7 linked regions of the Homo sapiens genome follow. The protein of the gene in region 1 interacts with the protein of each later gene in a biochemical or structural test. Each region holds a gene or a part of one and is shown in the gene's direction. Other genes may lie near its edges.

Evidence for each region.
Region 2: the proteins of LDB3 (region 1) and DGKH interact in a test that uses a peptide from one of them, tested with the Homo sapiens proteins (one large-scale study listed by IntAct).
Region 3: the proteins of LDB3 (region 1) and SLC22A11 interact in a test that uses a peptide from one of them, tested with the Homo sapiens proteins (one large-scale study listed by IntAct).
Region 4: the proteins of LDB3 (region 1) and MAP2K2 interact in a test that uses a peptide from one of them, tested with the Homo sapiens proteins (one large-scale study listed by IntAct).
Region 5: the proteins of LDB3 (region 1) and ASNSD1 interact in a test that uses a peptide from one of them, tested with the Homo sapiens proteins (one large-scale study listed by IntAct).
Region 6: the proteins of LDB3 (region 1) and ATRNL1 interact in a test that uses a peptide from one of them, tested with the Homo sapiens proteins (one large-scale study listed by IntAct).
Region 7: the proteins of LDB3 (region 1) and TNRC6A interact in a test that uses a peptide from one of them, tested with the Homo sapiens proteins (one large-scale study listed by IntAct).

Annotation. Positions count from the first base shown.
Region 1 is NC_000010.11:86,677,795-86,682,010, forward strand, and holds part of LDB3 (LIM domain-binding protein 3), read left to right. Parts: intron 1-1,572; coding exon 1,573-1,724; intron 1,725-2,287; coding exon 2,288-2,363; intron 2,364-3,641; coding exon 3,642-4,009; intron 4,010-4,216. UniProt on the Homo sapiens protein: May function as an adapter in striated muscle to couple protein kinase C-mediated signaling via its LIM domains to the cytoskeleton.
Region 2 is NC_000013.11:42,205,487-42,209,702, forward strand, and holds part of DGKH (diacylglycerol kinase eta), read left to right. Parts: intron 1-552; coding exon 553-660; intron 661-3,472; coding exon 3,473-3,586; intron 3,587-3,844; coding exon 3,845-3,979; intron 3,980-4,216.
Region 3 is NC_000011.10:64,565,457-64,569,672, forward strand, and holds part of SLC22A11 (solute carrier family 22 member 11), read left to right. Parts: intron 1-2,142; coding exon 2,143-2,357; intron 2,358-3,213; coding exon 3,214-3,322; intron 3,323-4,195; coding exon 4,196-4,216. UniProt on the Homo sapiens protein: Antiporter that mediates the transport of conjugated steroids and other specific organic anions at the basal membrane of syncytiotrophoblast and at the apical membrane of proximal tubule epithelial cells, in exchange for anionic compounds.
Region 4 is NC_000019.10:4,092,700-4,096,915, reverse strand, and holds part of MAP2K2 (dual specificity mitogen-activated protein kinase kinase 2), read left to right. Parts: intron 1-1,466; coding exon 1,467-1,528; intron 1,529-2,417; coding exon 2,418-2,463; intron 2,464-4,216. UniProt on the Homo sapiens protein: Catalyzes the concomitant phosphorylation of a threonine and a tyrosine residue in a Thr-Glu-Tyr sequence located in MAP kinases. Activates the ERK1 and ERK2 MAP kinases.
Region 5 is NC_000002.12:189,667,414-189,671,566, forward strand, and holds the end of ASNSD1 (asparagine synthetase domain-containing protein 1), read left to right. Parts: coding exon 1-183; intron 184-350; coding exon 351-532; intron 533-3,027; coding exon 3,028-3,313; 3' UTR 3,314-3,418; downstream 3,419-4,153.
Region 6 is NC_000010.11:115,091,473-115,096,386, forward strand, and holds the start of ATRNL1 (attractin-like protein 1 isoform 1 precursor), read left to right. Parts: upstream 1-1,892; 5' UTR 1,893-2,072; coding exon of another isoform or gene 2,073-2,164; 5' UTR 2,165-2,278; coding exon 2,279-2,571; intron 2,572-4,914. UniProt on the Homo sapiens protein: May play a role in melanocortin signaling pathways that regulate energy homeostasis.
Region 7 is NC_000016.10:24,806,138-24,810,353, forward strand, and holds part of TNRC6A (trinucleotide repeat-containing gene 6A protein), read left to right. Parts: intron 1-68; coding exon 69-146; intron 147-436; coding exon 437-647; intron 648-3,212; coding exon 3,213-3,344; intron 3,345-4,216.

The DNA of each region.
Region 1 (4,216 bases):
GGCAGGGTTGTCGGCTACCTCACTCTCTCCACATCTGCCAGGTAGCACAAAGCACCTGGCACTAAGATGCTTTTGAGTGGGTGCATTTATCCTGCCCTTCAGCCTGGCAGTGTCTCTGGGATGCTGCTGTGTCTTAGCTGCTGCATCTCCCTTTTCTCCTGGAGTCTGAAAAGTGCTCCATAGCTTTGCAGGGTGCAGGGGTTATAAGAGGCTAATCAAGGTTACAAATAGCCTGCAGTTTTTTGTTTGTTTGTTTGTTTTTAGACAGAGTCTCGCTCTCACCCAGGCTGGAGTGCAGTGGCATAATCTTAGCTCACTACAACCTCCACCTCCTGGGTTCAATCAAGAGTTCAAGCGATTCTCCTGCTTCAGCCTCCCGAGTAGCTGAGACTACAGGCACATGCCACCATGTCCAGCTAATTTTTTTTGTAATTTTGGTACAGACGGGGTTTCACCATGTTGGCCAGGCTGACCTCAGGTGATCTGCCTGCCTCAGCCTCCCAAAGTGCTGGGATTACAGGCATGAGCCACCACACCTGGCCACCCTTTTTTTTTTTTTTTTTAAGACCGAGTCTCCCTCTGTCACCCAGGCTGGAGTGCAGTGGTGCAATCTCAGCTCACGGCAACCTCTGCCTCCTGGGTTCAAGCAATTCTCCTGCCTCAGCCTCCCAAGTAGCTGGGACTACAGGCGCCCACCACCAGGCATGGCTAATTTTTGTATTTTTAGTAGAGACAGGGTTTCACCATATTGGCCAGGCTGATCTCGAACTCCTGACCTTGTGATCCACCCACCTTGGCCTCCCAAAGTGCTGGGATTACAGGCGTGAGCCACCACGCCCAGCAGATGCCTGCAAATTTTTAAGAGACAGAGTCTCCCTCTGTCACCCACGCTGGAGTTCAGTGGTGAGCGATCATAGTTTATTGTAACCTCAAACTCCTAGGCTGGAGTGACCCTCTCACCTGCCTCCTGAGTAGCTAGAACTACAGCCATGCACCACCACACCCTGCCAAATATTTTTATTTTTGTAGAAACAGGGTCTGGGCTCCTTTGCCTGGGCTGGCCTCAAACTCCTGGCCTCAAGCAATTCTCCTACCTCAGCCTCCCAAAGTGCTGGGATTATAGGCATGAGCCACCATGTCCAACAGCCTCCAAACCTTAATGGCTCAGAACAACAAAAGTTTCTCATTCATGCAACGTCCAATACAGTGCTCCTTAATCATCTCTCCTCCTCTCCATGCCCTGCATTCAGTCAGTCAACAAGCAGAGAGTGTGCAGGATCACAAGGATGGTTGCTAGAGGCAGACCTGGAAGGAGCATACATTGCTTCCACCCTCATTCAGTTGGCCAGAGCTAGTCCCAAGGCTGCAGTCAGACACAAAGCTCTAAGCAATGTGGTAGTCATGTGCCGGAAAGAGGAACTAGGCTTGGTTAGCAGCTGGTACTGGCCGTAGCGAATGAAAAACACAATGACGGCTTCTGTTGAATACTCCCGGGTGACTCTTCCCCAAGGACTGGCCTTTCCTCAGGACCACCTTCCTTATGCTCACCCCCCACCTCCACTATCCAATCAGATCACACCAGGCAGCAAGGCAGCCCAGTCCCAGCTCAGCCAGGGTGACCTCGTGGTGGCCATTGACGGCGTCAACACAGACACCATGACCCACCTGGAAGCCCAGAACAAGATCAAGTCTGCCAGCTACAACTTGAGCCTCACCCTGCAGAAGTAGGTGGGAGCTCTCCAGAGCAGGGGGCGGAGGTTTGGGTGTGGGCATGGGGCAGGGGCCAAAAGAGGGATTGTCCCATAGCAATTGAGTGGGCCCCGCCCTGGGCTACAAAACTGTGCAGGAAGATAAGGACAGCCCTGGGCCAGAGGAATGAACAGGCCCAAGTCGCTGTCAAGCACCTAGAGGCAGACATTACTGCCTCACTTTACAGTTAAGGCAGAGATGGTGGTCCTGGTGCTGCCCGTACGTGGGCCATTGGTCCTGGAAGGCAGGTCTTACCTACTTCCACTTTGCCCAGGCAGCCCCCAGTGACGTAGCAGGGGCCCATGGATTCTGACCAAAATGCCCAGGGGCCATGATTTCTCCATCCTCGTCGGGCCCAGGGCCTTCTTGGGGAGATCCAGCCCATGGGGTGGACAGTGGATCTGGGGCCCTCTGACTCAGCTATCTCTGAGAGCTGACTCTGGCTCTCTCTTGCTCTCTCCTCACCAGCCCTGCCCAGGCAGGAGCTTCTGGCCCCAGGGGCAACTTCCTCACCTGGTCTCATTTCTGGTTTCTACAGATCAAAGCGTCCCATTCCCATCTCCACGACAGCACCTCCAGTCCAGACCCCTCTGCCGGTGATCCCTCACCAGAAGGTAGGTGCTGACTGTGGCGGCGGGGTCCACTCAGCCCTGGTTCCTGGAGTGCTGGCCCTGGCCAGCCTGCCTGGTCTTTGGCTGGCCCAACTGGGATGAGGCCGTGGGATCAGCCCTGCCCCATCCCTGCCCCTGCTGCAGCTGACCCTGGGGAAGTGAGGCAGCCCCTTGGGAGAGACTTTCAAGCCCCTGTTGAACACTGGATGTGGGAATGAATGCCTGCCTGGGTGCAAGCCACCTCCGCTATGCCTCGTGGCTGGGCTGATAGGAAGCCAGCTTGGGCAGCAGTGTTCCCAGGAGAGGGGTCACCCTCCTGGCCAGGCAGGGGACGAGCGTCCAGGCTCTGACCTTCATTTGCCAAGGGGGCCACCGCTGGGTGACTGTGGCTGAGGCCCAGCTTGACGAGGACCTCCAGGTGTGGAGGGGCCTGCTGGCCTCACCCAGATCTCTCCCTCTGGTTTCCACTTCCCCACCTGCCCCTCCCAAGTGCATTCCCCTGTAGCCCTTAGGACGTGCTGGCAATGGCAGGCACAGGGGAGAAGGGAGGCCAAGCCCTGGCTCCAGACCTCACCACTGCCTAGGCCCTTCCCAAGGCCCCGCCAAGCAGCTCAACCCCCGAGGGCTCCCTGCTCAACTTCTCCCCCTATGTGAACTGATAGTGACCCCACCTGTCCAATGGGGCAGATTGGGCAGGGCAGTGGGGAGAGGGGAGAAAAAGAGGCTGACAGGGGTGGGGTAGGTCACAGACTGGGGAAGTGGGTGGAGGGCTGCTTGGGAGATGCTTGCAGAGGTAGACTGAGGGGCCCAAATGTGAGCTACCCAATTCCTCAGCTTCCCTCCTCACCTCCCCACCACCTGCCCACAACCAGCCCAGGAACTTCATCTCACTGGCAGTGTGGGGTCAGTGGAGCAGGAGGCTGGGCTGTGCCCACTGGGCACCCACTCTCAGGGGCAGGGGGAACAGACACAGAACGGGCCATCCCCTGACCCCTACACCCACTTCCTCGGGCCCTGGGGGCAGGAAGCTTGGCTTGGCTTCCATGCAGGGCTTGGCACTCTGCCCAGCTGGATGCCAGCCTCACGCCAGGCCAGGAGCCATGTGCCTGCCTGCTCCTCCACCAGTGTCCTCCCCTCCAAGTGCTGCGCCCAGGCGCTCTGGGCTTCAGGCTGCGGGGCTCGCGCTAACACATCTGTTTCAGGTCCACGCAGGAGCGCTGGGACGCGTGTGGCCTCTAACCGCTCTCTTCTCTCTCCCCTGCATGGCCTGCCCTGTGCCAGGACCCCGCTCTGGACACGAACGGCAGCCTGGTGGCACCCAGCCCCAGCCCTGAGGCGAGGGCCAGCCCAGGCACCCCAGGCACCCCGGAGCTCAGGCCCACCTTTAGCCCTGCCTTCTCCCGGCCCTCCGCCTTCTCCTCACTCGCCGAGGCCTCTGACCCTGGCCCTCCGCGGGCCAGCCTGAGGGCCAAGACCAGCCCAGAGGGGGCCCGGGACCTACTCGGCCCAAAAGCCCTGCCGGGCTCGAGCCAGCCGAGGCAATATAACAACCCCATTGGCCTGTACTCGGCAGAGACCCTGAGGGAGATGGCTCAGATGTACCAGATGAGCCTCCGAGGGAAGGCCTCGGGTGTCGGACTCCCAGGAGGGTAGGTAACGGACATACAGCTCTCCACAGGTGGCCTGGGCCACCTGGGTCCTCGGTGCTCGGCAGAGACCTGGTCAGGTGGTCAGAGCGAGGCACTGGCCCCAATCCAGCCAGCCCCGAGCCCATGAGGTCAGCAGTGATCCTGCGGCATTTGCCATGAGCCGGGCATGCTAGCGATTTATACAACCAACCACGCTGGGGTGACATG
Region 2 (4,216 bases), on another chromosome or scaffold:
GTGCTTAATGAGAAAGTAAGGACTGCAAGGAGCTTTCTGAGATGCATATATTTTTGCTTGACTTTGGTTCTGACTTGTACTTGAAGTATTCAGCTTTGAGTTTCACCAGTCCCCAGGTGGTTGTAGAGCCCCAGCAATGTACCAGGGACTGTGAGAGGGGCTAAGTGAGATGGTTAGGATCAACTTTCTCTTACCCAGTCTGCTTTCAAAAAGATGCTTAAAATAAGTACATAGAGGACCACAATGCAGGTGAAAGTACATAAAAGGCCTGAAAATGATTCAAGAAAAGGACTCCCTGGTTTTGGAGGAAAGAGGTAAAGCATTTCTTTAAAAATCAGTTTTTTGTAATAACTTCTGCTATAGTTATTTATACTTCAAACTTTTTTTAATTAAAAAAAATAAGATAAATGATTTGGTAACGTGTAGAGAGCAGACATTACGAACACACTGTGCTCCATTGTCCTTCATCTTTAGTGTTTTAGTATCTTCCATACTAGTGGTTCTGCTCTTTTTATCTAATCTCTACTTTTTTTTTTTTTTTTTACCTTACAGTGTGATGGGCAGTATATTCCTCTTCCCAGCTTGCAAGGCATAGCCGTGTTGAACATTCCCAGCTATGCTGGAGGCACTAACTTTTGGGGTGGAACTAAAGAGGATGATGTAAGTAATGGGAGTAAATAGTTTGTTTCCTCAAAAATAATTATATCACTGGAATAATTTGCTTTTGTAAATGGGCTGTTGAATAGTAGTTTAATTTCATGTTAAATATTTTGCATTGGGTAAGTGAGGCATGGAATAGATTTATTTAAGATTTTATTGTAACAGTCTCTTGTGGATGTACTCCAACTTTTCTCATGTTGAAGATACAGATATTCGTATCTTGGGATGTATGTCACAATTTTCTGGATGAACATTAAATAGTGGGTCTGCTTTTGGAAAGTAGATTTATGAAATAAGGAAGGGAAGATTTTACTTTTTAATTTTATACCTGCATCTGTTTTCTATCGCTGCTATAACAAGTTAACACAAATTTAGCCACCTCAAACACATTTATCATCTTACTGTTGTATATGATGGGAGACTGGCACAGTCTTACTGGGCTAAAATCAAGGTGTCAGCTGGGCTGTTGCCTTCCGGAGGCTCTAAGGGAGACTCTTATTTCCCTGTCTTTGGAGCGTCTCGAGGCTGCCCACATTCCCCTCCATCTTCAAAGCCAGCAAAGGCAGGTTGAATCCTTCTCACATGGCATCTCTCTGATGTCTGCTGCTTCCTCTTCCACTTTTGATGACCACTGTGATTACATTGGGCCCACCTAGATCACCCAGGATCATCCCCATCTCAAGGCCCTTTATTTAATCACATCTGCAAAGTTCCTTTTGCTGTGTAAGGTAACAGATTCACGGGTTTGGGGGATTAGGACATGGACATTTTAGGGGGCAGAGAGGGGGCATTATTCTGCCTACCACAATACCTTTTGGTACTTTTACTTTTTCTTTCTTTCTTTCTTTCTTTCTTTCTTTCTTTCTTTCTTTCTTTCTTTTTCTTTCTTTCTTTCCTTCTTTCCTTCTTTCCTTCCTTCTTTCTTTCTTTCTTTCTTTCTTTCTTTCTTTCTTTCTTTCTTTCTTTCTCTTTCTCTCTCCTTCCTTCCTTCCTTCCTTCCTTCCTTCCTTCCTTCCTTCCTTCCTTCCTTCCTTCCTTCCTTCCTTCCTTCTTTCTTTTTTGAGACAGAATCTTACTCTGTCGCTCAGACTGGAGTGCAATGGCGTAATCTCAGCTCGCTACAACCTCTGCCTCTCAGGTTCAAGCAGTTCCCCTGCCTCAGCCTCCTGGGTAGCTGGGACTACAGGCACACACCACCACACCTGGCTAATTTTTGCATTTTTAGTAGAGACGGGGGTTTCACCATGTTGGCCAGGGTGGTCTCGAACTTCTGACCTCAGGTGATCCACCCACCTCGGCCTCCCAAAGTCCTAGGATTACAGGGATGAGCCACTGCATCCAGCCTCAGTACTTTTAATTTTCTAAACTTGTGTGTGTATATATTTTTTATTTTCAGAAATATCAAGAGGGCTCATTTGGCCGGTCGAGTTTAGGGCTATTTTTGTTTTTCTTTTCATACTTTTCTATATTAGAAAAAGAAGAAAACACAACCTTACAAATGTAATTGTTGTGAAAAGAATGAAAGAGAGGGCACAATTATTAAAGTGTGTATATATATATATATATATATCAGTAAAAATGAGAAGTGTTATCACAGTCTTTATTTGAAGAGTCACATCCATTGATTTGAGTTTATGATATAATGATATAATGGTTCCTACTGATCTGTTATTCTCAAAGATCTTAAATGGACAGATAGGGATACAGTATAAGATCAATTGGAAAGTATTTGTAATTTTCATGACATAAATATATTCCAGTCCTATTCGAGTATAAAAGCATCTTTTGTCTGCTTGTCACTATTAAGTATTTTGAAGGGGAGAAATCAGTGAGATTAAGGTAAATAAAGCCAACATTCCTTGAACACCTGCTAGGTAGTCCGACAATGTTCTAAGAGCTTCACATTCATTATTTAATGTCCACGTTGTTTATTTGATTTTTACTGCTGAAGAATCTAAGACAAAGTTTCCAGTTAGTAATAGCAGAGACAGGGTTTAAATTCAGGCAGTATAATAAAAAAATTACAAATTACAATGTTAGCAACTTTGTGTCCTGATATTTTCAGTGAAAGTTTTAATTAGCTTATTACTTTATACTGAAAATTGTTTCAGATGCATATTATTTATGATATAGTAAAAGAGAGAGTAAGGTAATACAGCCTACATATAAAATTTTAGAGTAAATTAATTTTGTGAAAATGCATCTAATGTAAAGACAAAATAAGTCTGCATAATTTTTATCTTCTGAGGTTTCTATTTGCATACTCTCAAGTTCCCTCAAAAGTTTTGTATTAAAATATAAAGCACATATGTATATTGCTTGTAAAACCTTGAAAGATTTCCCTTAGAATATATCAAGTAAACTGGATCATAATTTGCATCTTCATTAGCTTTAACTTTATGAAACTATATCACCTTTCTATGACACTATATCGCCTTTGTAGTTTTTTTTAGATTTCCAAAACTTACATGTATCATCTTATTAACATGTTTGAATTAGGTATGAACATGTATTTAACATGTTTTATTCCAAGGTGAATTATTTAGAAATATATTAGTTAACTGGTCCAAAGAGTAGTTTAATGAGAGGTATGAGTAGTATATCCGTGTATATTTGAAAACCCTTTTTAAAGTTAGGTTTATTGGAAGTCATCTTCAGAGATTTTTTTCTTGGATTATTATTTCCTAATAATATTTACTTAAATATATTATTAAATATATTAAATATATGTAGATATATATTGCAGTTTACATTGCTTAACGTGCTCTTCACCTAAACATTCAGTAGAAGTGTAATGTAGTTTTTCTTTCAGATATTTGCTGCACCATCCTTTGATGACAAGATCCTGGAAGTTGTAGCAATATTTGATAGCATGCAAATGGCAGTTTCAAGGGTCATTAAACTGCAGCATCATCGAATAGCCCAGGTTGGTTTCTCTCGTCAAACCTGACTGCACTTCTTGGGCTAAGGAGGGTTGAAGGAATCTATTCTAAACAACTCGTACACTGGATATTCATCTATAATATTCTGACTTTGTTGTCATATCAGTTTTTACCATGTCATTTATAAGTGATAAAGCATAATAGTCTATTCTGTAGAATAGTCTAATACTCAAGCCTTCATAAAGATTGAGTGTCATTTTCTCTGGATGATTTGTACTCTAAAATGATTTGTTTTATTTCAGTGCCGTACAGTGAAAATCACTATATTTGGTGACGAAGGAGTCCCAGTGCAAGTGGATGGTGAAGCGTGGGTTCAGCCTCCAGGGATTATCAAAATTGTGCACAAAAACAGAGCACAAATGCTAACAAGGGACAGAGTATGTAACAAAAACATTCTTCTAGAATATTGTCAGGTTTTTAAAGAATCTGAAATTGTTATAAAAAAATAGAAAATGAAAACATTTAAATTGTCTCTTAAATCTGACATTTAGGTCATGGTGGTTTGAAATATGAACAAATATTTATTTATTTCAGTAGGAGTTTATTTTTTAGAGCCATTTTAGGTTTACAGAAAAACTGGGCAGAAAGTAAAGAGAATTCGAATTACGTTCCTA
Region 3 (4,216 bases), on another chromosome or scaffold:
TTTCTGTCTGGGACAGGACGCAGACAGCCCCAGCAGGCAGGAGTCCTGGCAGGCAGCAGAGAGGGACTATGCACAGGTGGGATCTGGAGGCTGCCATCTGCAGGAAGCCAGAGGAAAAGGCAGCTCTAGGCTGGGGGTCCCAGGGTCCCAGGGAGGTCCCAAGACAGAGGCAGAGCCAGGGTCCCTAGAGCCAGGGGACCAGCCACGGCCGAGGAGTACCACTGTGTGTCATCGTTAGAGACTTACCACTTTCCTAGAGACCATGGCCATGCTCCTAGAGGGTGAACCTGCATTCGCTGACCCCTCCATGCAACCCCACTTCACTGATGGGGAAAGAGGATCCCAGAGGGGTAAGGAACAAGCCCAAAATAATAGAGCCTGCATTGGAACCGGGCTGAGCTAACACTTGGCTTACCGGCACTGTCACTGCCAGGGCCCGCGCGACCAGACCCTGGCCCTCCCCGGGACCCAAGGTCATCTGGGCCCAGGAAAAGGCCCTTAAAACAAATTCAGTTCCGGTGACATCCAAAAGAGCATATTAAAAAGCAAGGACCAGTCAGGCGCGGTGGCTCAAGCCTGTAATCCCTCACTTTGGGAGGCTGAGGCAGGAGGATCGCTTGAGCCCAGGAGTTCAAGACCAGCCTGGGTAACATAGTAAGACCCTCTCATCGCTACTAAAAATCAAAAAATGAGGCAGGAGGATCACTGGAGCCCAGGAGATAGAGGCTGCACTGAGCTGAGATTGTGCTACTGCACTCCAGCCTGGGCGACAGGGCAAGATTCCGTCAAAGGAAAAAAAAAAAAACCTAAGGACCTGGTTTGATTGGGACTTTTATCTTGAAATAAAACTGAAGTTTAGGAAAACGTTTCTTTTATGCTATATTTAACCACATATGGGTTATGATGGCAAATACTTGCTACATCTTAGAACAAAGATAGATCAAATGCCTTTTTTAAAAAACTTCAATTTTTTTCTGATAAATCAGAAGGAGTGCTCTCACTGCAAACACCCGGGACCAGTTTTTTTTTTTAAAAAAAAAAAAAACCTTCCAGGATTCCTCAGTTCTCCCAGGGGCCGGCTCTGCAACCTTTGTTATTCAAATCAGAGGCTTTGAAGCTGGTGACCTTGTGGGTTTTCCTGTCTTGTTAACCCAGTTGTTATCTGTCCAAGGCTCCAGTGTCGGCCGCTTTGAGCACCAGCCCAGTGACTCTCACGTCACTCACATAAACTTCATGAAACACCGCGGCTTGTGCGATTTTACTCTGATGTTGTTGGGCTGGTGTTGTCCGATGTTTATTGGGTGATGCAATCAGGTGACGCCTAAGGGGAGGGCTGGGAGGAGCATCTGGGTTAAGCAGGGAGAGCACAGATTTTAAACGTGGCCGAGAAGAATTTTACCTTGCAGCCAGTTGTGGATCCAAATCCCATCTCCAAACCATGAGAATTTAAATACCGTAAATTCAGCTACTCGTGAGCCAGTGGGGTGGGGGAGTGGGCAGAAAGCAGACCCTGAGATGGAGAAGGGAAGGCAAGGGGAGATGCAGCCACAGCCTGGGCCCAGCCCAGCCCCTGGGAGCGTGGGAGCTGGGGCCTTTCTGGGTGGTCCCTCTGCCCCATGAACCAGTCACAGGCTGCTCTCCCCAGAGAAGGGGCAGCACTCCCAGGGGCTGGGGGACAGGCTCTCCATCCTGAATGTGGTCTGGGCAATGCAGCCCAGGGTCTCCCGAGAGGCCCTGTCCTGCCATGATTCCCATCTTCCAAGAGAAAGGCACAGTGTGACTGGTTATCAGAATCAAAGCCAGAGAGGGCTAGTCCGGAAGTGAGGGGCAGCTCAGAGGCCCCCGAGGGCAGACTTGGTCCCAGCCAGAGAGGCAACGCCCCAGCGCATCGCTGCCCCTGACACAAAGCCTGTGTGTGAAGGGATGGTGGAGCCACCCTGCCTGCCCTTTCCTGGAAGAGCCTGACGCTGGGGTTGTGTCCTGAGTTTGGCAGGCTTCTGGGATCGCTGGCCGAGACAAGCCCAGGATTGTCCTCCGGGGTTGGCCATGTCCTCCCAGGCAGCTCCTGGTGGGAGGTGCTGTTGCTGTTGGGGTGCCCTCTCCCCGGCAGGGCAGGGACCTGACTTCCAGCCTTGCCCGCAGTTTCTCTCTATTGATCTCCTACTATGGGCTGGTCTTCGACCTGCAGAGCCTGGGCCGTGACATCTTCCTCCTCCAGGCCCTCTTCGGGGCCGTGGACTTCCTGGGCCGGGCCACCACTGCCCTCTTGCTCAGTTTCCTTGGCCGCCGCACCATCCAGGCGGGTTCCCAGGCCATGGCCGGCCTCGCCATTCTAGCCAACATGCTGGTGCCGCAAGGTGAGGCAGGCGGACTGGGCGGTGGGACCGGGCCCTGCTTCCCCGCCCACCCCACTGCTCTGAGCGTGGGGCCACATCCCCTCCCTGGCCCCAGGAGCTGCCTCCCTGTTTTCTTTCTGAATGAGGGAGGCTATGAGGACCTGGAATCCCTCTCTGTGTCTCCTTTTATTGCTGAGGGTGGGAGACTGGGGGAAAGGGACAGGGCGGCACGTCGTGCGGTGGCGGCAGAGCCGGGAGGAAGGCAGGAGGCTGCCTTGCGGCTGGCAGAAGGCCTGAGCGGGGACGGAGGCGGCCGGGGCCCTGCAGGCTGCAGCGAGAGCCCAAGCTCTGAGCGCGAGCAGCTGCGAGGAAACTGACAACGGCGAGCACCTCCCAGCAGTTCAGGCACCTCCACGGAGCAACGCGTTGGGGAGGCCAGGCCTGCGGCCAAAAGGGGGCCCGGACCTCCGCCTCCAGGCCAGGGCTTCTGCCATCCCCACACAGGCAGGCTGGCGGGCAGCAGGAAGGCTGCTGTGGACCGGGCCCGGCGCTCTCTCCGTCATAGCAAGAGGCATCTCGGGACCCTAGGAGCCGCGGTGGGGGGCATTCTTTCAGTGCAGCCTCCACGGCCGGCCAGGCTCAGCTACCCTAGACCTGGCTGGGTTTCTGCCTGTGCCCCTCGGGCCCCTGCCGCGATATCGCATCCTATGCTCTGTCCCCCAACCCCAGCCCTGGGCAGCCCCGCACCAAGCCAGCAGGGCCGGGGACTTGTAGGGAGCCCAGGGTCCCCTCTGCTCCAGGCTGGCTGGCCGCACACTGACTAGCCCCTGGGTACCCTCCAGGGCAAACCCCACTCTCACCCCCTTCCTGTACCCAGATTTGCAGACCCTGCGTGTGGTCTTTGCTGTGCTGGGAAAGGGATGTTTTGGGATAAGCCTAACCTGCCTCACCATCTACAAGGCTGAACTCTTTCCAACGCCAGTGCGGTAAGCTGGGCTGCAGGCCATGCCCCAGGGCCAGCAGGGCCGTCCTGAGAGGGCGGTGGGAAGGGAAAGAAGGGTCTGGCAGCCAGGGAAATGCAGCCAGGGCCGCTCAGGGTCCCCCCCAGGACAGCTCTTCCCCTTGAGAGTCTCGACCCAGACAGAAGCAGTACAGTAGAGCCCTGGGGACATCTGGGCCTGTGTTTTCACACCATTTTGAGCCACAGAGTCATCTGTCCAGATGGAATCTTATAAGAATCCTGATTAGGAGACCAAGAGCTGCCCTGGTAGCAGTGGGGACCCTCAACTCACTTCCCACCACTCCTTCCCTGCCCCAAGAGAGCCCCAAGTCACCTCCTTGGAGCCCAAGGGCATCATAAAACACAAATGGAAAACCAGTGGTCTAGAGTCTAGGCCACCCCCACATTTGATATTTGGGTAAACTGAGGCTCGGGGTGAAGGACTGGCTCAGCAGAAGGGTAGGACTGGACTCCAGCTCTCCAGACTTTTAGCCCAATGTTCTTTCCACCACTCACTCATTTCTCCATATTTTAATTTGTTGTTTGGACAAGCATTTATTGATTTTGTTGATATCGTATGGAAAGCCTGAGTTGGGAGCTCAGTGGCCTAGCAGGAGTATGGAGAAGCCCTTAAGTTGCCCAAGAGTGGGGAAAATGAGGTGGGCCCTAGAGATTTCCCCTGAAACACTAGATGCAAAAATCTGGGTGGGCTCCGTGGAGGAGGTGGCATTAGAGGAGGCCTTGAGGAGGGCAATTCCCTCAGCCCAGCTTTCCTTCCCCTGGCATCTGTGAGCCCAGGATGTCTTCCTGCCACAGGGCCAGCTGTTACAGGGATCTGGGCCCTCCCCTTCACCCACAGGATGACAGCAGATGGCATTCT
Region 4 (4,216 bases), on another chromosome or scaffold:
TTCTACTGTGCTGCACAAGCCCAGCTCCTTCCCAAGGGCATTGTTTTTTTATGAAGACGAACCCAGAATTCCCACCGCAGCCTCTCACCCTGAGTCCAGAGGGAGGTGTGTGCCAGCAGCCCTGGGCTCAGGCCGAGGAGCCAGCCTGCCCCTTGAGCAGTGGCCCAGTGTCTCTGCATCAGAGCGTCCTGGCGCCCGTGGGCGTGGACTCATAAATCACCCCGCTTCCACGGAGAAAGGTACAGGAATGGCCCTTGCCTCTTGGAAGGAGGCCCAGAGAGCCTAGAAGGACCTGTAGGTCCCGGGGTGGCTCCTGCTCCGTCAGTCCCCATAACAACCCAGTGAGCCACAGTATGAGGGTTTCCACCGCCCAGATGAGTAAAACAAGGCACAAGGAGGGACGCGGCCTCCTTCCAGGCCTGCAGCTGTCAGGGAGGCACAGGACTGCACCCCAAGGTCCTGTTGGCCACGTGACCAGGCCGGGCCACCTCCCTGGGCCTTCTGTGGGTTTCTGTGTCTTTGGTGGCCCTTTGGAGCTGGGGCAGAGAAACGGGCATTTGAGCTGCCTGCAGACTGGGCTAGGCCTGGGGTTGGGTGGCGAGATGATGACGGAGCCAGGTGGGGTGGCCCTGGTGACCCAGCTCTCCCTGCACCTAGCAGCCACACCCATGCCCAGTGAGCACATCCCCCGACCTCTCCCCCGCCTCTTCCCGCCCCTGCCCCTGCGCGGGAAAGGCCTGCCCCTGCCCTGCTGGCACCGCTTACACGGCCACTCCCGCTCCGGGGACGTGTGTCAGGCCAGGCTCCCCAGTGCTTGGGCTTAAAACTGTGGACCCAGTTTGGCCGGGCACGGTGGCTCAGGTGTGTAATTCCAGCACTTTGGGAGGCCACAGTGGGTGGATCACCTGAGGTCAGGAGTTCGAGACCAGCCTGGCCAACCTGGTGAAATACCGTCTCTACTAAAAATATAAAAATTAGCCAGGCGCAGTGGTGGGCACCTGTCATCCCAGCTACTCAGGAGGCTGAGGCTGGAGAATCCCTTGAACCCCGGAGGTGGAGGCTGCAGTGAGCCAAGATCACGCCATTGCACTCCAGCCTGGGCAACAGAGCGAGACTGTCTCAAAACAAAATAACTTTGGATCCAGATGTCCCTCTGTGGGGCCCAGTCCCAAAGCTCATCCTTCAGCCAGTGACACTGGGGAAGGAAGCAAGTGACGACACTCGAGAGGTTGTCCTGTTGATAAAAGGGGGACGCACCCCACTCTTTCCCTCTAAGCAGCCGTGACTCTCAAACGAGAGCTTTCGGGAGAAGGCCACCTCTGACAGGGTGCAGCCCAGTTGGCATGTGGTGTCGGCCAGGCCTGCAGGGTGGGTGACCGGACAGGACAGTGAGGGGTAGAGAGGGCTGCAGCCGAGGGTCCCTGACGATGCCCAGGGCTGACCCCACCCTCTGTTCTCCTCCACAGCCACCTCCTAAGCTGCCCAACGGTGTGTTCACCCCCGACTTCCAGGAGTTTGTCAATAAATGGTAGGTGGAGCCGGGCTGCCCACACCCCTGGCCGGGACCCAGATGTGCCACTCCTTCCGGGTCCTGGGTGGGGCCCGTGGCCCAGCCTGCCCATCCAGAATCCCAGTGCAGCGTTAGGCAGGACTCAGCCCAACGGGAAGCCAGATTCCTTTTCCCAGAGCTGTGGGGCTGCAGCTCCCGGCTGCCATGCCATCCTGTCCGTGAGCCCAGGGGTGAAGCAGGATTGCAGGCCCTGTGCACATGACGGTGTCCCCAGCTCACTGTCTGCAGCAGGAGAAGCCTCTGTCTGGTCCCCGGACCCCTGGTGTGCTGACTGTGGGCTCCCCGGGATCCGCCCGCAGGTTCTGGGAGGGTCGCCAGCCCCACTCCATTCTCCTGCCCCCAAGCACCCAGCAGCACCTGTGGCGTGGGCTTCACAGGCATGTGCCGCAGACCACGGGGAAGGAGCTGCGGACACCCCGCTGCCCACAGGGCCGGTCCATGTGTGTGAGCTCGGGACGCCGTGGAACGGCACCGCACTCCTGGTGCCGGAGTTGCCCCGGGCCCTTGGCGTGCGCTCCGGCGATGTTGCCCCGGGCCTGGGGTTTTATTAGACAGTTAGCTGGGGTTGCGTCCAGGCTTCTGACCCACCAGGCGGGGTTTCCCACCCTCTTTCCCTCTCACCCTCCCGCTGGGGGGTGTCCTGCCCCTGGCACCAAAGTGCAGAGGTGGATCCCTCGTCCTCTGCCAGGAGGCAGAACAGAGCAGCCACTCTGTGCCACTCTCTCTGGTCGGAGAGATCCAGGCCCCCTCCGACCACGGCCCACACGCGGGTGCCCCGGGGCCACCAGCTGACTGCCCTGTCTTGTCTCCTCCACCGCCTCCCGGTCCTGCCTCTTGGAACCCCCAGCCTCATCAAGAACCCAGCGGAGCGGGCGGACCTGAAGATGCTCACAGTGAGTGATGCCAGCGGGTTCTGGGACCGGGAGGGTGCAGGCTGCCACCCAGGCCCCAGGAAATAAGGCTGCTGGGCCTGGCCCTGCCCGGGGAGCCAGCACCTGCGACCAGGATGTGGGCAGGCCGGGTGTGCCAGGCCACGCCGAGGACCCTCTGTGGGTCTCTCTCATCCATGAGAGAAGCCATCCTGGGCTGGCTGCGGGGAGCAGAGGGTGTGTGCGTGGGAACAGCTCTGGGCTCTGAGCTCCGCCGCTCCTGCCTGGTGCTGGTCCCGCACCCACAGGATGAGACCCCGGGCTTCTTTGCCCTCATGAGAGGCTGGAGGCAGCTCTCAGCCCCCCAGGCTCCTTTCCCTGCAAACTAGAGGGTGACCATCCCTGTTCTGCACACTGGCAAGCAGGTCCCCCGAGGCCGTGCGTACTTCGGTGTCCCCTTAAACCCCCATCCTCTGATATCCTCGGAAGCCCAGCTGTTCACCAAAACTCGCCTCCCCAGCGGGGACTACACCCTCAGAGGAGGGCCCCGGGCATCATCCTCCTGCCCTCAGCCCAGCCTGCATCCCGAGTGCTTTCCCATACCACAGCCACCGTCAGCGACCTTCAAACCCCTCGACAGCTGATTGGCGGATTGGAGATGCCACCCCCCTAGACAGCCCGTTACTTTCTGTGCCTGTAAGAAAAGAAGAGATGCCAGCTACAGACACCCAACCGGGTGCCTTCTAATACTGGAATGTGGCTTTCAGTTTTGTTTTTTTCTTGAGAGTCGGACAGAGTCTCACTCTGTCGCCCAGACTGGAGTGCAGTGAAGCAATCTCAGCTCACTGCAGTCTCAGCCTCCCAGGCTCACACAATTCTCCAGTCAGCCTCCCAGGTAGCTACGATTACAGGCACCCGCCACCACACCCGGCTAATTTTTGTATTTTTAGTAGAAACAGGCTTTCACCATGTTGTCCAGGCTGGCCTCAAACTCCTGACCTCAGGTGATCCACCTGCCTCAGCCTCCCAAAGTGCAGAGATTACAGATGTGAGCCACCGCACCTGGTCAAAAAAATTTTTGAGATACAGCCTTGCTCTGTCCCCCAGGCTGGAATGCAGTGGTGCGATTGTAGCTCACTGTAGCCCCAACTCCCGTGCTCAAGTGATCCTCCCACTCAGCCTCCTGAGCAGCTGGGGCTACCGATGTGTGCCACCAAGCCCAGCTAGTTTTTGTGTGTGGGTTTTGTTTTTCCCCGCAAAGATGAAGTCTCACTCTTGTCACCCAGGTTGGAGTGCAGTGGTACGATCTCGGCTCACTGCAACCTCCGCCTCCCAGGTTCAGGGAATTCTCCTGTCTTAGCCTCCTCAGCCTCCTAAGTAGCTGGGATTACAGGTGGCTGCCACCACGCCCAGCTAATTTTTGTATTTTTAGTAGAGATGGGGTTTCCCCGTGTTGGCCAGGCTGGTCTCGAACTCCTGACCTCAGGTGATCTGCCTGCCTCAGCCTCGCAAAGTGCTGGGATTACAGGCGTGAGCCACCGTGCCCGACCTGCCCAGCTAGTTTTTTTTATAGAGACAGGGTCTTGCTAATTGTCCAGGCTGGTCTCAAACTCCTGGGCTCAAATGATTCTCCCACCTTGGCCTCCCAGAGGGCTGGGATTACAGGTGTGAGCCACTGCACCTGGCATGTGTGACTTTTTTTCTTTTTTAATGAGGCAGGCTGGGCATTGTGGTGGGCACTTGGAATCCTAGTGCCATAGGGGGATGGCTCTCTGAG
Region 5 (4,153 bases), on another chromosome or scaffold:
GTTGAAATTAATGTTTCTATGGAAGAACTGCAGAAATTAAGAAGAACTCGAATATGTCACTTAATTCGGCCATTGGATACAGTTTTGGATGATAGCATTGGCTGTGCAGTCTGGTTTGCTTCTAGAGGAATTGGTTGGTTAGTGGCCCAGGAAGGAGTGAAATCCTATCAGAGCAATGCAAAGGTATGACACAGTGTTTCTTCTCCTGAGAATTCCTGAGACCTATTTTTGACCCTTAAAGCTTTTAGCATTTTGATTGTAAGAATATAGCATATTTTAGGTGCATTTATCTTATTTTCTTTACTGTGTAGTTGATAACATTTTTATACGGATTTCTTTAAACCTCATAGGTAGTTCTCACTGGAATTGGTGCAGATGAGCAACTTGCAGGTTATTCTCGTCATCGTGTCCGCTTTCAGTCGCATGGGCTGGAAGGATTGAATAAGGAAATAATGATGGAACTGGGTCGAATTTCTTCTAGAAATCTTGGTCGTGATGACAGAGTTATTGGTGATCATGGAAAAGAAGCAAGGTAATTCTAATCATTTGAGTGTTCTTACGGTATTTTTATAAAAACAGCAGAGTGTAAATGGAGACTTTAAAGTTTGTTTTCTCTTTGGAGACTGTTCACATGAATAAGAGCAGCAATAATAGCTTGGCTTTGTATTATAAACAAAGTCAGAAACAGAGCTGGGAAGAGCCAGGAGAGCATTTATTTTCTAGAACTCATTCTCTAAGAAATGTCTTTTCAGTAATTTTCAAAGGTAACATAATGACAGGATTGTTTTTAAGACTATAGTGAAAAATACTGTCAAAGTAGGCCAGGCATGGTGGCTCACACCTGTCTTCCTAGCACTTTGGGAGGCCAAGGCGGGTGGATCACCTGAGGACAGGAGTTCAAGACCAGCCTGGTAAACATGATGAAACCCCACTTCTACTAAAAATACAAAAAAATTAGCTGATCATGGTGCTGCATGCCTGTAGTTCCAGCTACTCGGGAGGCTGAGAATGGCTGAACCCAGGAGGTGGAGGTTGCAGTGAGCCCAGATCGCGCCACCGCACTCCAGCCTGGGAGACAGTGCGAGACTCTGTTTCCACAAAAAAACAGAGTAAAACTGAGATAGTGAAATACTAAGAGAAGGTATTTAGAGGGTTTTGTTCAGCTTTTAATGTTTGCTTTCCTCCCAGTAAGGGCATAAGCCCCACCTGCAAGCCTTCTCCAGTGTTATAGAAACTGGCTTTGTCTCTATAGACATTTCTGTATGTACAGATCCATGCTGATTTGAAGGTAGTCCTTACACTGGATATTCCTCTGCCACGTTTTTTGAACACAATTTAGTTACATATTGCAGATTACCTAAAACCTTCAAAGAAACCAAGGCACTTTCATGTATGTATTCTTGCTTTTCAGGTTTATTTTTACCTATATCATATTTCTGAAGGTAGTGAACAAGTACAGTATTTGAATAAAACTTTCTAAAACATTAAGTAAGGATAAAGGAAGATGTGACATTTAGTTATAAAGAGCAAAAATTCATTCAAGTAGGCTAATTGATTAAGTGGTAGTTTATTACAAGGGTGCAAGCATCCAAGAATAGGAAGTCCAAGTAAGCTTCATGAGAATTAAACATACTACACTTTCTCTCCCTCTCTCTCTCTCTCTCTTTGACTTCATTGTTTCTTGTCTCTACTTCAGTCTTTTCCTCTTTCCACTGACTTGTAGTTGCCTTTACACAGTTGTCTTTCTTAAGTTTCTGGTCCTAGCCCATGTAAAAGTTTAGCTACTATGTCATTATTCTGTCATAATTTTCAAGATTTCACTATAAACTGATAACTAATGCCATAATAAAGTCCGTAAACTGTTAAACTGTTTTCTCTTTGAAGGACATGAGAGAGGTAGAAATTCAGTCTGTTATTTCAGCTAGGTCATAGAGAAAGGAATTTGTCTAGTAAAAGCCCTTACTTATGAAAGTATTATATTATGCTCAAATAAAAATGCATATGAAGAATGTTTAAAGCAGCTAATACAGAATTGTGATATAACAAATATAGTGGCTAGATCTAAATAATTTATTACGTATCTTGACATACATATTAACAGTAGTGTGTTGATTTGATTCTCTAGTTAAATTTGCTTTTGCAACTCATTCATTTTTATGTAATATTCCAGATAACAAATGTCTTTGTCCTTTCCAATCTCTTAACCTAGAATAGGATGTAATAAAACGGAAACACTAGTGTAACTGTATTGCATTTTGAGATGTGGGATGGTGGGTGTTAAAGTATTTTAAACAGAAAAAGAACATAATTTTCTAGAAATTGGGGAAGGAAAAGGGCAGAAAGTTTTTTTTTAATCGAATATTTTGTTTCTAGGTCATCCCAGAATTTAGGGGAAAAAAATCTAATATTTTGTTCTGTTACAGTAATTTATCACCATTTAATTGGTTTAAGTATAATTAAACAATTTTGAGTAACAAAATTTTACCATAAGTGTTTTGCAGGTTCAGGACTGTGGAGCCCTTCTATATTGGTTCCATATCCCTAAAGTGTCATTTCTTTAGACCTGATAAAGATCAGACACAGATTGAATAGTTAGTTAAGATCATGCTCGTAGGCTAGGTGCGGTGGCTCACTCCTGTATTCCCAGCACTTTGGGAGGCCAAAGCAGGTGGGTCACTTGAGTTCAGGAGTCCGAGACCAGCCTGGGCAATGTGGCGAAATCTCATCTCTACCAACAAATACAAAGATTAGCTGGGTGCGGTAGTGCTCACCTAGGCAAAAAAAAAAAAAAAAAATCATGTTTGTTTTCAAGGCCTCCACAAAGATACCTTGTAAAACAATTTGAAATTATTTCTGGACACAATAAACCTAATTTATTTATTGAGATTTAGACTATTTTGTAGTATATGTATTAAAATTAGTCATGTTGTGAAACAATTTGGTTAAATTTTAGCTATAAAACTGTGTATAAATCAAAGCAGGTTGATTTTATTTTTACATAGTGGTTATATTATCTGTCTATTTTAGATTTCCTTTCCTGGATGAAAATGTTGTCTCCTTTCTAAATTCTCTGCCGATTTGGGAAAAAGCAAACTTGACTTTACCCCGAGGAATTGGTGAAAAATTACTTTTACGCCTTGCAGCTGTGGAACTTGGTCTTACAGCCTCTGCTCTTCTGCCCAAACGGGCCATGCAGTTTGGATCAAGAATTGCAAAAATGGAAAAAATTAATGAAAAGGCATCTGATAAATGTGGACGGCTCCAAATCATGTCCTTAGAAAATCTTTCTATTGAAAAGGAGACTAAATTGTAATGTGATTCACAATGTAACAATATAAAAATAAGTTTTTATATAATTATATAAAAGTAAGATACTCTGCTGCTTTACTATTGTATAACATAGTAGTTTTAAAGTTCATTTGGTTGAATTTTCATTTTTTCCTGTCACAGAGCTTCTAAAACCATGGAATTTCCTTAGTGATAGGGAATATCTTTTGTTGTTCATAATAAGCCCCTTTTGATCACACCTGAGTTTATGCTAATGCGTTGACTTAGGGTGAGGTCTCTAAATAGCCTTTAACACCTGCAGCTTGGGAGGCCAAGGCAGAGGGATCTCTTGAGTCCAGGAGTTTGAGAACAGCCTGGGCAACATGATGAAACCTCATCTCTACCAAAAAAAAAAAAAAAGTACAGAAAATTAGCTGGGCATGGAAGCATGTGCCTCCCTACTCAAGAGTCTGAGGTGGGAGGATCACTTGAGCCCAGGAAGTTGAAGCTGCAGTGAGGCTAGGATCATACCACTGCACTCCAGCCTGGGCGACAGTGAGACCCTGTCTCTAAAAATAAAAATAAAAACAAAAATAAAAATCAAGTGATTAGAAGAGTTGGAATTTCATCCCCACCCACCAACCTCTGGGAGGGAGAGTGGTGCTGAAAATTAAGGTCTATTAAACTTTATAAAAACTCTTGAACAAGATTTGATGAGCCTCTGGTTTGCTGAACATGTGGAGGTGCTGGGAGTGTGGTATGCCCAGAGAGGACAAGGAAGCTCCCTCTCATCTTAATTTTTTTTAATACTTTGCCTTATGCATCTCTTCAATTTGGCTGTGCCTGAGATGTATCCTATATAATAAGCCAGTAAACATAAGTATTT
Region 6 (4,914 bases), about 28 Mb from region 1:
CAGTCATTGAAATGAAAAGATGTGATCCAGAACAGGATCTTCCTTTTAACTGGTGTCTGCAGTGTTCTCTCCTCTGCTTCTTCACTCATTTCAAGAAGTCTCTAAGGGGCAGCCTGATGTGGAAAAGATGTTAAGGGAAGAAGAGGGCATCCTAATTCTAGGTTTGATAAGGACATTTTTGATACTGGTAAAACCCTGAAATTATGGAAATTATGATTTGTTCTGTATGCCAACGAGAATCGTGGTTTTCCTTTTGCTCTTTTCCTTGCGAAGGAGCCAACTCCTTCTGGATCTTTGTTTTTATTTTTTCCTCCTTAAGTCACTGCTGAGGTATTTTTAAACCAAGCCAACACGTATATTTTATTCACCGAAGGAAGAACAAAGCATCTGCTAATAGAAGCAGTGAAAAAAGCACAGCAGTCAGAGGCCTCGTGTCTAAAGCTCAGTTCATTACTCCTAACCTGCCATTGGCCAATATTTCAACCTTTCTGAGTTGCTCTTTCTCATCTGCAAAATGGGGTTAATGGAGGATTTCATCTGCAAGTGGGGATAAGAGACATGAAAAGAACTGACGCGAAATAAACACGAGTTGAATCCTAACAATAATATTTTGACTATGTAGTTACAACAAACTTTTCTTTCTTCTTTTTTTTTTTTTCTGTGAGAAGTGCCTTTGGTGGATTTTGAATTCTTTTTCATACTGCCTGTTCTTTGGTGGGACTCCAGCAACATTGCTGTAACTCGAGGATATATGGCTGCAATGTGTGTTTGGCTTCCTTTCTCAAGGGGGTCAAATAAAAAGGCAACTGTTTAGAGAAGGCACCAAAGTACAAAACAAAAATCTCAGAATATGCCAGCCAATCTTGGAAAGTCATCTGAAGAAGAAAAAGTGCTGCTGAGGAAGGAAAACGGCCCTTTTGTGGGCATCACTTCTGCTCTTCTGAAAAAAAGCCCCGATGCTGCAATATTTTTCAAGGCAGAATATCGTCCCAGATGGAGGAGGGAGCACTGACAAGCAGAAAAGGAGAGACGTGCGGTTTCGAGGCAGCGTCTGTAAGGGGTGGAGAGCGCGGGGCTCGGAGCCTCGCAGTTCTTTGTTGGGGGCGCGGGCTTCGTTATTCCCGAGGCAGCAATGGCTCCCCCTCGGAGGTCCCTCCGCGGAGACCGCCTCGCGCCTCTCGCAGTCCCCAATCCCCGCCCCTCCCAGCCCTCGCTGACCCCACAACGTGGTCGGACTGCGGTGCCTTTAAGGCTTTTGCCTGCTGCACATGCTCAGCTCTTTGTGTGTTGTTGGAGTTTTTCTCTCTTAAGAGAAAAAGAAGAAATAGGCAGGAGGATGGGGCGGAGGAAGGGGGAAGCGCTAGGGAAAAAGCGTTGCACTTTTGCAGCTGCAGACGGCGGACGGGAAGGACTTCTTTTCTGCTGAAGCTGCGAAGCCTGTGTCGATCTCTCATTCGTGGGGCTCCCGGGGCGCGGGGTGCGGGTGGGGCCGGGGTGCCCGCACCGGCCGGGGGGAAGGGCACGCGGGCCACACCTGGGGGGCCTGTCTCCAGTCAGCGCGCGGGCCAGGCGGGGTGGGCGCGCGCGCGTGGGGGAGTCCCCGGTCCCTGTCAGGGGCGGGGCGAGACCAAGGCGCCGGGCCTGTGGGGAGGAGTGTAGGCGCGCGCGAGGGCGGGGGGCGGCCCCACGCATCGTGGGCTCCCGGCGCTGCCGCTGCGGCCGGCTCGAGGCACCGGAGACAGAATGGCTGCCGGGGCGCCCTTGACCGCCGGGCGGGCGAGGCGGGGCTGACCGCCGCCTCCTTGATCGCCCCCTTCCACGTTGGGCGCGCCCACTTCGGGGCGCCCGCTCGGCCCCCGCCCTCCTGGGCGCGCGGCGCTCGGAGCCGAGGCAGTTGGCGCGGGCCGCGGGCGAGGCGGGGCCGCGCGCGGGGTCCCCTCCTCCTGCCGGTCAGGTCCCCTCAGGAGCGCCGGGCGCAGTCTGCGCCTCCCGCTCCCCGCCTCCGGCCGGGTCCGGGACGCCGCGGCTGTGGGGTCGGCCCGCTAAGGACAAGGTCGGGAGACTGGGTGGCGATGCCCGAGTGCGACTGGAGGCAGCCGAGCGGAGGCGACGGCGGTTGGGATCTGTCCCTCCTGACCGGGGAGCGGGACTCGGACGGGCGCCGGTGAGGAGGAGGAGAAGCGGCGGCGGAGAGGTTTTCTGCGGCCGGAATTCCCTTCAACAGCATCCCTGTCGGCGCCCGCGAGCGCAGTCTCGCCGGGCAGGGGCGCCGGGGAAGATGGAGACTGGGGGCCGGGCCCGCACTGGTACCCCGCAGCCAGCGGCCCCGGGGGTGTGGAGGGCTCGGCCGGCGGGCGGCGGCGGCGGGGGCGCCTCCTCCTGGCTGCTGGACGGGAACAGCTGGCTGCTGTGCTATGGCTTCCTCTACCTGGCGCTCTACGCGCAGGTGTCCCAGTCCAAGCCGTGCGAGAGGACCGGCTCCTGCTTCTCGGGCCGCTGTGTCAACTCCACCTGCCTCTGCGACCCGGGCTGGGTGGGGGACCAGTGCCAGCACTGCCAGGGCAGGTTCAAGTAAGTGCCTTCGCCGGACCCCGAACCTCCAGCCCTGCCTCGCTCCCGTCGCGGCCTTCCCCGCCCCCCTCGCGGCCTCCCCCGCCCCCGTCGCTGCCTCTGATCCCCCGGCCGTGAGTGAACCTCAGCGCGCGGCGGGAGCGGGCGAGAGTGGGGCCCGCGCCGCGCCCCCTCCAGCCCCGGGGCGCCCCGGGAGAGCTCGGGCCCGCGCGGAGCCCTGACCAACGGGGAGCTAGGCATTTCTCGAGCGTTCCAGATGTCCGCAGCGACTTCTGATCCGCTGCTCAGCACGAACATTTTCACAATCAGTTATGATGCCCAGCACCATTTTCTTGGGATAATATTTAAAAATCAGAAATTGTCCAAGTTACTTATGAAATACATGCGCATTGTGAAAAATTCACAAAAGTGTAAAGGTTCAGTTATGATCTATGAGTGCCTCTCTCTTTCCCCATTCTCTTCTCTCTAGAGGTGACCCCTTCTAACATTTATTTAGTCATCATAGTGATGTTAATAAGTAGAGTTTATGATGGACTTGCTAAGTGCCAAACACTCTTCTAAGCGCTTTATGTCAATTTTCTCATTTATTCCCTACAACAACTCTGTGAGTTGCTAGAATTATTATGCTGGATTTACGGAGAGAAATCGAGGCGATACATTGAAGTAACTTGGCCAGGATTACACAGTAGTAAGGGCCGAGTTATGATTCCAAATCAGCTGGCACATTCTGGAGCCAGTACACACTCCAGAATGTGTACTTTTAACGAATTTGCTGTGTTGTATTTGCTAGGACAATCTTGAATTGAGAAATACAAAGGTGACTTTAGGTTAGATAGAAGGACGTTTTTATGTGGTGAGGATAATGGATTTTTTTCTGATCGGTTAATTCACTGTCAGCTTTTGTGCGGGAACATCGCTTTGGCTTGTTTGAAGCTCAAGGAGCCTAAGAAGTTTGCTTGCTAAGGTGAAGGTACTTTCTTCGTACTGGTTGGTGTTTATTACATTCTTGCCTGATATAAAAAGCAATGGGTCACAGTGTAGGGGAGTAGCAAAAGTCACTTAATATTGGGGCAGGCTTCTAACAACATGCAGGTAACAGTCATTAAGAAAGTCAGCTTCTTAGTCTTCTAGATACTTAATATGAAGTTTGCTGGCTGGTTTGTGGCTCTTGAATATTGTAGATTACTGATATTGTTAGGCTGATAGCCAAAATCTAGGTGAAATTTCTCTTGGGCTCTAAGGCAAAGGTAAGACTGGTTCACCTTATTAATGTATTCTAGGACAATTTCCTGGAATTTTAAACACAGCATACTTTCCTTTTTTTTTTTTTTTAAAAAAAAACTTACTATTACTGATTAAAATAAATGTCCCTTAAAACTCAATGTAAAAATGTATATTTTTAAAATGGCACTTTAAAATTTTAGGTAGAGTCTATGATTTAAATTAACTAGTAGGTTTTGGAAGTGAAATCTTAAAGTGAAGTTTTATGAAACTTATGCAATAGGTTGAAATTTTTCTAGGGTTTATACTTTAAAGGTAGTATAGTAATGTAGTTTTAAAAATACTTTTTAAAAAAATTAGGAGAGATGCTGATTAAAAGTTTAAAAAGTGTTTCAAGATGAGGAAAGAGATCTTAATGAATTCTGCTTGTTAGTTGTTTTTTTTTGCTTGTGTTCTTAAACGTTTGCTATGACAGTAGAATTCAGCGTCTTTACCTAGCAAGAGAGAATTTTGAACATGTAAACTGGTAGTCAGCAGTGAAAAAGCCTCATCCATTTTTTACATTTTTTTTACATAAATAGGGAGAGTGCCTGATTTATATGTAGGGATATTGGCTTTTGTGTGGGTGGGTTTGCTCCGTTTGTCTAAAGAGGACAAAATTTGCTGCAGTCCTGAGAAGCTTCATTTTAAAGTAGCGGAACTTGTTAATCAGCTGGATCAGCAGCCTGTGACCTCACTAGCAGATGTTGTCCCAGTTAAAAAGATCACAGATCAAGTTAAAACTAGCTTAAATAACATTGAGAGGTGGTGTTCATAAACAAAATACATTAGTGAGTAGAAGAAGAATAGATATTTGATGTAGATATTGTTAAATAACAATAAATCCTGAGCTAATCACTGAGTATTCATCTTTTCCTTGGAAGCTATTATTTCCTAGGACTCATTGTACTCTATTGGGTAAATGCTTTTGCATTTCTCTGTGGAATACAAGCTATTAATTAGAGTAAATATAACTGGTGTAACGATCTGTGTTTTTATTATGTATACTCTTGGGGATAAAGAACACATTGGTATTTAATGTTAAAGAGAAGGATTATGTATAGTAGAAAAGAATTCTTCTTG
Region 7 (4,216 bases), on another chromosome or scaffold:
TCGTCATTTGGAAGCACACACTTTGTAATGGTGTGATAGTAACAACCTTTTCGCTATCTTTCCTCTAGCGATTGTTAGCGCAGCAGCAAAGGGCGCAGAGTCAGAGAAGCGTGCCTTCTGGGAACCGGCCGCAGCAAGACCAGCAGGTAGAGCCCGCCCTGCAACTCGCAATGCTGTCTTTGTGTTAATAAACTCTGCTTATCTCCATTGTAGCAAGAGATTCAGAAATGTCTTTCTTAAAACAATCTTACTAAGATGTAATGCAGTATGTTTTTCATTAAGTCTGCTGGTTGCCCATGAGTTATGTGAACATTATACAGTGATTATTCACCTTTCTGCTGAGACGAAAGTGAATTCAAAAATGGAGAGGAATATGTAGTTTTCTGTAAAGACGTTTTCCCCCAGTAATTTTTTCCAATCATTTCATTGTTTTAAGGGTCGACCTCTTAGTGTGCAGCAGCAAATGATGCAACAATCTCGTCAACTTGATCCAAACCTGTTGGTGAAGCAGCAGACTCCACCATCTCAGCAGCAGCCACTCCATCAGCCAGCCATGAAGTCTTTCCTTGACAATGTCATGCCCCACACTACACCTGAGCTGCAAAAAGGGCCATCACCAATAAATGCTTTCAGCAACTTCCCTATAGGTGGGTTTCTCCTTGGCCCAAGTATTGGACTGATGCTTAGGTATCACAGGCGTGCCTCCTTCACACGTACCCTTACAGCTCTGTTCCTTCATGAAAGCTACATTGATCTCTTAGCTGTTCCCTCTCAGAGAGTTGCCATCCCCTCTCCTAGTTTTAACCTGCTCCACATTCAGGGAAGGTCTCTCTCCTCAAGAAAATCACGATTTTTCTTTTCTTTCCTTTTCTTTTTTTTTTTTTTTAGGACAGAGTCTTGCTCTGTCACCCAGGGTGGAGTGCAGTGGTGAGATCTTGGCTCACTGCAACCTCTGCCTCCCGGGTTCAAGCGATTCTCGCACCTCAGCTTCCCGAGTAGCTGGGATTACAGGCGCGCACCACCACGCCCAGCTAATCTTTGTATTTTAATAGATTTGGGGTTTCACCATGTTGGCCGGGTGGGTCTGGAACTCCTGACCTCAGGTGATCTGCCTGCCTTGGCCTCCCAAAGTGTTGGGATTACAGGCATGAGCCACCATGCCCAGCCTTCAAAATCACACTATTTCAAAAACTCCACACTCGTTTAAAGTGCATTAGAATAAAGGAAACATTTCACTTTTTAAAGGACTAGCTGTCTTAATCTTAAGTAGGATATTAAGGGTGGGAAGGAAGGCTGATGTTCTTATTAGAAACAGTACACCAGAGAATTTTTGAGCAGTGCTGTTTTGGTGAAACAGCTGGGGATGGTCACAGTCACATTTGCTAGCTCTCAGAACTTGAAGTTTTAACTACTGTCTAACTATGTATAAATGATTACTGATATAAATTTAAAAATGGAGGTAAGAAAGGAGATTGCCTTTCTTATACATGCAACTCCCCACCCCCACCCACTCTTTTTTCTCTGTTATCTCCAGGCTTTTATTCACTGGGTAGAGATTTTGAGCTTATATGTTGTTTCTTTCCTAGGTCTCTTTTTTTCTTGTGCCCTTGATTATATTTTAACCATTGATTGTTCATGCCCTGTTTATTTTGCTTTTTTTCTCTCTCTTTTCCTATACAGTGGTTTCTTGTAAACCAGCTTTGCTGGTTGTTAGCCAGAGTGTTTGAAGACCATCAGTTAACTAGTTGTTCTGGGCTGTGGGCAGAGGCTGGGGCATGCTGTTGCCCCTGCTGCTGCCTCACTCTGTGACTGAACTGGTTTGGCTCAGCCTGGTATTACCACAGACTCTCACCTGGGACATAAATTGTACTTTGAGTCCTTAGGATTGTTAGTGATCTCTGCATTTCCAAAAACAGTTCCCTTGTCAGTTACTACTGTGGGTGAATACTGAAGAAGCCATTTAGTGGTGGCCAGGTGATGTCAGAGACAACAGTTAGTAGTAAAAGAATGATACCCAAGTACAGGGAGAAGTTTTTGTCTCATCAGTGAAGGGAGCTGGCTCTTCCTATTTGACTGCACACTTGACATATAAATTGGCCACATAAGTTCTAAGCATAGGATTTCCTGCCCTGGCCAGCTTCTCAGTGAGGGATACTTCTTGATTAAGAAAGTCTGCTTAGCCCATGCAAATACCAATACAGTTATCTAAGTTCGGCAACAGGCTATGGCCTGTTGGCCAAATTTGGCCCACTGCCTGCTGTTGTAAGGTTTTGTTGGACACAGCCACATTTTCTCTAACCTGGGGTCTGTGGCTGCTTTCGTGCTGCACCAGCAGAGTTGCATGGAGACACCGGGACCATGTGGCCCACAGAGCCTGAGATACCGGCTGAACCTCTGCAGAAAAAAATTGTCAACTCCTGATCCGATTGATGGGTCCAAGAGTAGCAAATTTAATTGCTCTCTGCAAAAATACGCATGGTATTAGAGAATTTGTATTATTAAAGTTTTCAGGTTTGACAGACCTTAACATCACATGGACTCATCAGACCAGAGAATTTAAAACAATTTAATTTGGAACTTTAGAATAAGAACCTCTTGGGAATTGTGAAACAAAGATTCTGGCTCCCACTGGAAAGTCTTCATTTTTAAACAAGCGTTTTAGGTGATTCTAATATTAATAGTCCCTAGATTACTCTTTTAAGAAAAACTAGCTTAATAGTTTTCTGACCACTGTATCTAAGGTTGAAATTTCCATTCTTGTTCCAAGAGAATATCCAAGTCTGAGGGGCCTCATCAGCAAAGGTCAAGTAAATTGTGCCTTAAGATATATCTGTCCCCAGCCTAGGTGTAATTGCTAGTACAGGACATTTTTACTTTAGAATTTGCAAGCAAAAGATAGCAACTGAAAGTGACCACAGATCTTCATGCATAGGTACACTTGGGAAATAGCTAAACAGATACATTTTATTCCAAGTAAACTTATACATCTGGCTTCCTTAAAACTTTTCTCCCTCTTATTTTGCCAAGGAGTTTTAAATAAATCATCAAAATTTTATGGAGAAATATTTTCTACGTATAACTAAATTATAGTATTAACAGTTATGTGGTTTGAAAACATTAGTTACATGTTTTTCTAGGAAATAGAAGTTGTGCTACTAGAAAGAAAATGTGCTGTATTTTCTAAGGTTTTGTTTTGTTTTTTAATTTTTCAGGCTTGAACTCAAACTTGAATGTAAATATGGATATGAACAGTATTAAAGAGCCACAGTCAAGACTAAGGAAGTGGACGACAGTGGACAGCATTTCTGTGAACACATCTTTGGATCAAAACTCCAGCAAACATGGTACAAAAGATACATCTTACCAAAAAAAAAAAAAAAACACACACACCTGCAGAATACTAGATTTAGGCCTTTATTTTATTTTAAATGTGTTTTCAAAGCCAAATTATCTTAGAACTTTTCCTCATTTAAAAAAAGTTGTTATTAAGTCTTAGTTACAATAAGAGACTTTCAGATGAAAAGCAGAATTTACCTCTACTCTGTTTTATAAAGGAGAGATCAGATGATACATGTTTAAAAATTATTTTCTCTTTGGCTTTTTACATTTTTCTAAGTGATTTTATTCTTATATTATTACACTTATTAACATTTACTGGATTTAATTTGATATGTTCTTAGGACATTTAAAACTTCTACCAGGGTCCCATTCCGTCACCCAGGCTGGAATGCATTGGCATGATCTCAGCTCACTGAAAACTCTGCTCCCGGGTTCAAGCAGTTCTCCTACCTCAGCCTCCTGAGTAGCTGGGATTACAGGCCTGAGCCACCATGCCCGGCTAATTTTTGTATTTTTAGTAGAGACAGGGTTTCATCATGCTGGCCAGGCTGGTCTCAAACTCCTGACCTCAGGTGATCCATCTGCCTTGGTCTCCCAAAGTGCTGCGATTACAGGTGTGAACTACTGCACCTGGCCCATAATTTTATTTCTATCAATTCCTTATATATGGACACATTTCTTTATATAGCTTATTGCTATGTGTAAGTCATATGGATTTAACAGTATTGTCTTTTCAGCAATTAAATTTTTTTTAGAAATGCCGTTTTCATCTTATTTAGTATTATCCATTCACCCAGCAAATATTAATCGAGTATCTTCTGCTTTCCAAGGCTATGTTAGCACCTGGAATACATAGACACAATGTACATACATGCTT